Regions from separate parts of the Homo sapiens genome. Here region 2 is linked to region 1. Evidence: fine-mapped expression QTL. A gene starts in region 1. The other region holds a variant in brackets. All regions are shown on one strand. Distances are from middle to middle. Region 1 holds the start of SETD9 (SET domain containing 9). Region 2 has its middle 13 kb from the start of MIER3.

Evidence for each region.
Region 2: its variant is fine-mapped to the expression of SETD9 in lung (TOPMed, PIP above 0.99).

What each region holds. Positions count from the first base shown.
Region 1 is chr5:56,907,984-56,910,895 of GRCh38, forward strand. It overlaps SETD9 (SET domain containing 9), which reads left to right and starts at 1,613. Exons shown (of 6, transcript NM_153706.4): 1 at 1,613-1,760. The coding sequence starts at 1,663. RefSeq lists enhancers at 1,249-1,338, 2,129-2,178, 2,274-2,912 and silencers at 1,489-1,698, 1,879-2,088.
Region 2 is chr5:56,963,353-56,966,264 of GRCh38, forward strand. No RefSeq gene overlaps it. Among named protein-coding and RNA genes, the nearest start is that of MIER3, 13 kb to the left of the region's middle. The variant A/G (reference allele first, on the strand shown) is at 1,427.

The DNA of each region.
Region 1 (2,912 bases):
AAATAGAGACATTGGTAGATACTCTTTCTCTTTATTTCTTTCAGAATAGAACAAATTAGTCCCGCAGCTACTGGCGATTGGCTGAATTTTTTTTTTTTTTGAGACGGGATCTCACTCTGTCACCCAGGCTGGAGTGCAGTGGCGGATCTCGGCTCCCTGCAACCTCCGTCTCTCAGGTTCAAGCGATTCTTCTGCCTCAGCCTCCTGAGTAGCTGGGACTACAGGCACGTGCCACCAACGCTCGGCTAATTTTTGTATTTGTTCTTTTTTAGTAAAGACGGGGTTTCGCCATGTTGGCCAGATTGGTCCCGAACTCCTGACCTCAGGGGATCCACCCGCCTCGGCCTCCCAAAGTGCTGGGATTACAGGCGTGAGCCACTGCGCCCGGCCTTGGCTGAGTTTTTATTAGATCTGAGCCGTTCAATTTCAATAGTTTAGGATCCAACCTCACTCTCAGGCAAAGAATAGAGGAAATGATACCAACGTATTTATCTGTCAATAAACACTTGGTGATTTGAATATGGTTAAGGGATTCCTGTAGTTTGCCCCCCTTAAAACTGAACTTTGTCCAAACCTGTTCTAAATATGTGTGTGCGTGTGCATGCATCTGGGTGTTGGGGAGGAGCGGTCGTAAAGTTCCTTTTAAATTTCACCTATGGGGGACTACTTCCCACCTCATCCTATGAAGTCAACATTAGCCTAAATACCAAAGCCAGATTAAGACACTACAAGAAAACTACGAAACAATATCTCTCACGAACACAGATGCAGAACTTCTAGACAAAACGTTTCCAAATTGAAGCGAAGACCATATTAAAAGGACAAAAGCACCTCAGTGGTTGCTTGGGGACTGGGGGAGGGGCTGGATTACTATCTTGGCTGTGGTGTCGAAAACCTATCAAATTGTTCACTTTAAATATGTGCAGTTTATTGTATCCCAACCATTCCTCAACAAAGCTGTTTTTCAGAAACATTTGTCCATGTAGTTTTGCCTTTGAATGGTTGGGTCAATGAAGAGAAAAACGAGTGAAAACAGGGAATCATGACACTTTGTTTTTTTACGTGTAAATATTCGCAAAACGCCCAAACTGGTAACTTTGGGAACACGGGTTCACGCAGAAGAAGGGCTGCTGTCTGGGGAGGACTGAAACTCGGGTTCCCGAAGTCGGGCTGCTCTGGGGCCACGGAGAGAAGGGGAGAGAACGTCGAGGAAGAGGCAGAGCTCAAGTGGACGGAGGATGGAACACAGAGCGCGGCCGGGACAAAGGGGCAGGCCAGACAGCCGTGACAGAGAAACTAGGCGGTCCGCTCCTGGGACGCGGTCTCGGGGGCGGGTTCGCCCCTGAGGCCCGGTGACCCTTCGCCCGCAACCAGGGCTAGCGCTTGTGTGCGCCCACGGAAGCACCCGAGCGACCGGAGAAAGAAAAAGTGGTCAAGGGGACCTCCTTCCAGCTCTACGCGCCTCTCATTCAGAGAGGTGAGGTCAGGAAAGGGGAAGGACGAAGCCCCAGAGCAACAGAAGTCAGGCGGTGCCAGGAACACTGAGAGCGGAGCCAGGGGAAGGCGGCCGAGCGCGGCCCCCTCTCCTCCCGGGCCGGGGCGGGCCCGAGGCCTCGATCCGCCTTCCCCGCGCCGTCCTGGTCACGGCCCCGCGGGGCAGCCATGCCTGGCCGTCTGCTGCGGGGCCTGTGGCAGCGATGGCGCCGTTACAAGTACCGCTTCGTTCCCTGGATCGCACTGAACCTAAGCCACAACCCGAGGTGAGAGGGCGGGACGGCAGAACGAGGGGCACCTGCCTTCGGTTCCCAGACGCCACCACGGCGGCGGGACGCAAAGCGGAGAGCCTGAGGCTGACTGCCGGCCTGAGATGGGCGGGCCCGGGTGGGCAGGGACTGAGGTGGGCGGGCCGGGTGGGCGGGGACTGAGGCCTCGGAGGGGTTTAAGGAACGCGGGCCAGAGGCGGGCGGGGCCGAGGTTGGTGGAGTCCGAGGCCCGCTGGAAGCCTGAAGTGGGCGGTGGCTTCAGGTGGGCGGGGCCTATGGCCTCTTTCCCAGTGTCCGCTGCGCTGCCGGGCCCGCGAGGCCGAGCTCGCCAGCCGGATGTGTCGCCTGTTCTTCCCTGTTGCGTTCGGCACTGACTGGGGAGCTTGTATCTGGGCAAAAATGGAAACTTTTTAAAAAGACTGCCCTTACCGCGTGAGAGTGCGTGGCTTTTTCTCCACCAGGGGTTAATTAGGTGCTTGAACTTCCTCAGAAAAGCCAAGCCAGGGTTTATTTTCATAGTTCATACAAGTACTTCACGTGGTTAAAGAAGCCCATCCCGGCTGTGAGAATAGCGTGCAGTAGCTCGCGCGTTAAGAACGGGCAGAACGCCACTCAAAAGCACGTCGGGATGGTGGGTTTCGGATTGGGGTGAGTCCCGCCGGCGTTATTAAGGGCGCACCAGTGATCAGCTCAACACCGTGCTCACCAAAGAGGCCGACCGGGCCTCCCTGAAGTCAGTGTCCGACAAATAGGGAAACAAAGCGGTTTCCGGAAGGTTGCATGCTAGGGAAACAGGAGATCAGTTGTATCATGACTCGGAACCGTGAGGCGGGAATTACAACCTTTTTGTTCAAGTAAAAATAATGCAGTTAGTACAAAAAGATAATGATTATGGAAATAAGAGGTGCAGTCATTGAAGACGTTAGTCGTCCTGGAGGGAGTGTCACAAAGTATACGATGTTGAATTTGTCTTTGAAACTACAAGGCCATTTTTAAAAAGCCATTGAATGTGAGGTCATTCATTCTCATTGTGATGACATTCAGCTTGGCTGTTGGGTGTAGTACGGGAAAGAGCTGAACTTCGTTTCTGCCTCTGGCTCTCCCACTTACTGGCTTTGGGACCTTGAACAAGTTCCCTAACAATTTTGC
Region 2 (2,912 bases), 55 kb after region 1:
GGCATTTCCCCTGCTTGCACTTCTCTCTCTCCTGCCACCATATGAAGAAGTTCCTTGCTTCCCCTTCCACGGTGATTGTCGGTTTCCTGAAGCCTTATTGGCCATGTGGAACTGTGAGTCAATTAAACCTCTTTTCTTTATAAATAACCTAGTCTTGTGTATCTCTTTACAGTAGTGTGAAAATTGACTAATACAGTCTGGTTCTTCAAAAAGCAAAGATTTGGATGAAGTAGTTTATTTGGAGGATGATCCCATTGCAAGGGAATGGGAAACTGAAACAGAGAAGGAAGAAAGCCAACAAATGGTGTATTAATAAGAGAGTACCACTGTGAACAACAAGGGTTCAGTCCCACAGAGGACCCTCTTAGGGAATGGTGTGTAATAACTTTGAATTGTAAAGTTTTTAAAAGGGGTGAGATAGCTGGAATTTTAGCTGCCAATTCCCATTCACAGTAAAAGCTGCTCCTGGCATTAACTCCTGGGCACTTTCGGCCTGCCCTTCATGAGGGCTAAGCCTACTGTCTCAGCCAGAGAACACCCTTAGGTAATAAGATGTAAGAACCAGGTGTGTACAGGTGCCACCCACAGGGGACCTGGGCAAACTGAGGAATATAGATTAATTATTGCTAGTAGCTACTGCTGCTGTATAGCTGAAAAAGATCTGGGATCATAGGGGGCTATGATCCCACCTAAAATCAGCACAGTTGTACTTCCCTGTTTCCCTAGACCAATACTTTTCAAAATTTTCTGACCAATATCCACAGTTAGAAATATATTTTTACATTGTGACACAGTACACATGAATGTTTATATAGTGCACATTTACACCAAAAGTTTTCTAAAATAATGCTTATTCTTTTGAAACAGCATGCACCCTAATATCTTTCTATGTCGCTAGATTTTTTAAAACAAAGATTGAAATTTCCAGTACTGATTTCAAGACCCTCTAAAAACCCTCAATTTATTGTCCTAGCTACTGCAAGTGTGTACTGCTGCAGTGATAAGGAGCTTGAGCAAGACTGTAAATAAATGATGTCACTATGCCCTAAAGTCATTAAGTACTAAACTAATTTCAGCTGACTTTTTTTTTTTTTTTATAGCAAGACAGTCTCAATGAAGGAAGCAGTATGTTGATTGGTATTTTAGCAGTAGGTCTTTATCTAGTCAGAGACTGGAAACAGTTAACAAACACACACTTTGAGCAGCACTGCCCTAGACCGTACTTGAATGGGGTTTTAAAAATGGGCTTAAGACTAAAAATGAATTTTTCTAATGCTTGCCCTTCTCTGTTGTTAAAAGATCCCCAGCCCTCCACAAGTCTTATTTAGTATTTCTTGGGGTCTCATAGGGTTATCTCTGACGAAGTTGCCAAACCATATTTACAGAAGGTTCCAACCTTCTCCTTAGCTTCAAAGGCTAGAATGAA[A/G]GATGAAGACCACTGCCCCCACTCTGCTCACCCCTGCAAGGAGGACCACTCAGCCCTTACTCCTGTGCTTCCTGCCTTTCCACTCCTGCCGCTGCCAGCATACTGGGAAATAAGGTTCAGGTGCCACTTCTGTGGACTAACAAAAGAAGGGAAACTGGGTCCTACACTGCAATTGTGGGCCCCCATCCCAGGTAACAGAGGAGCTCTGTGACGCTGCTATCTTCTAGGGCAACAGTCCTCAAACTGGAGTACCCTAGGATGCTCAACCCAGGGCAATTTTGCTCCCCCAGGTGACATTGGCAATGTCTGAAGACATTTTTGTTGTCACAACTTGAGTGGAGGAATGCTACTGGCTTCTGGTAAATAGAGGTCAGAGATGTTGCTAAATATCCTACAATGCACAGACCAGCCCTCACAACAAAGAAATATTTGACCCAAAAGGTCAATAGTGCCGAGGTTGAGAAAACCTGCCCTAGGGGTACACATAGGCTTCCCAGGGGCAAGTGGGCACTGGTCACTTTAAGCTGATTGGTTAACATGTCTTCCATTTCCATTTGCACCATCTCCTAAATTTGGTTTACCACACTCTGCAAGTTCTACTTTCCCACCTCCTTTTCACAGTGACCTCTCTTCCAAACCCCAAATATACTATCTGGGTATAAAAATCTTGCAGGGCAGCCAGTCGCGGTGGCTCACGCCTATAATCCCAGCACTTTGGGAGGCCGAGGCGGGCAGATTACGAGGTCAGGAGATCGAGACCATCTTGGCCTGTTAACATGGTGAAACCTCATCTCTACTAAAATACAAAAAATTAGCCAGGCGTAGTGGTGTGTGCCCGTAACCCCAGCTACTTGGGAGGCTGAGGCATGGGAATCACTTGAACCCGGGAGGCGGTGGTTGCAGTGAGCTGAGATGGTGCCACTGCTGCACTCCAGCCTGGCAACAGAGCAAGACTCCATCTCAAAAAAAAAAAAAAAAAAAAAAAAAAATCTTGTAGGGCAAGCCAGGTGTGGTGGTGCATGCCTGTAGTCCCAGCTACTCATGAGGCTGAGGCAGGAGGATCATTTTGAGCCTAGAGGTTCCAGGTCACCATGAGTTCTGATTGTGCCATTGTATTCTAGCCTGGGTGACAGAGTGGAGTCTTGTCTCTTAGAAAAAAAAAAAAAAAGATTTATGCCAGACATTTCTATAAACCAAATTGGATAAATCTTCAGGGCAAGGTATAATATATAAAATATGACAGGGATTACATCCTTTGCAACCGTTTACATTTATAATAGAAATCTTTACATGTTAACTTTTTTTTTTTTGAGACAGAGTCTGGCTCTGTTGCCCATGCTGTAGTGCAGTGGCACAGTCTCGGCTCACTGCAACCTCTGCCTCCTGGGTTCAAGCAATTCTCACGCCTTAGCCTCCCAAGTAGCTGGGTTTACAGGCACCTGCCACCACGCCCAGCTAATTTTTGTATTTTTAGTAGAGATAGGGT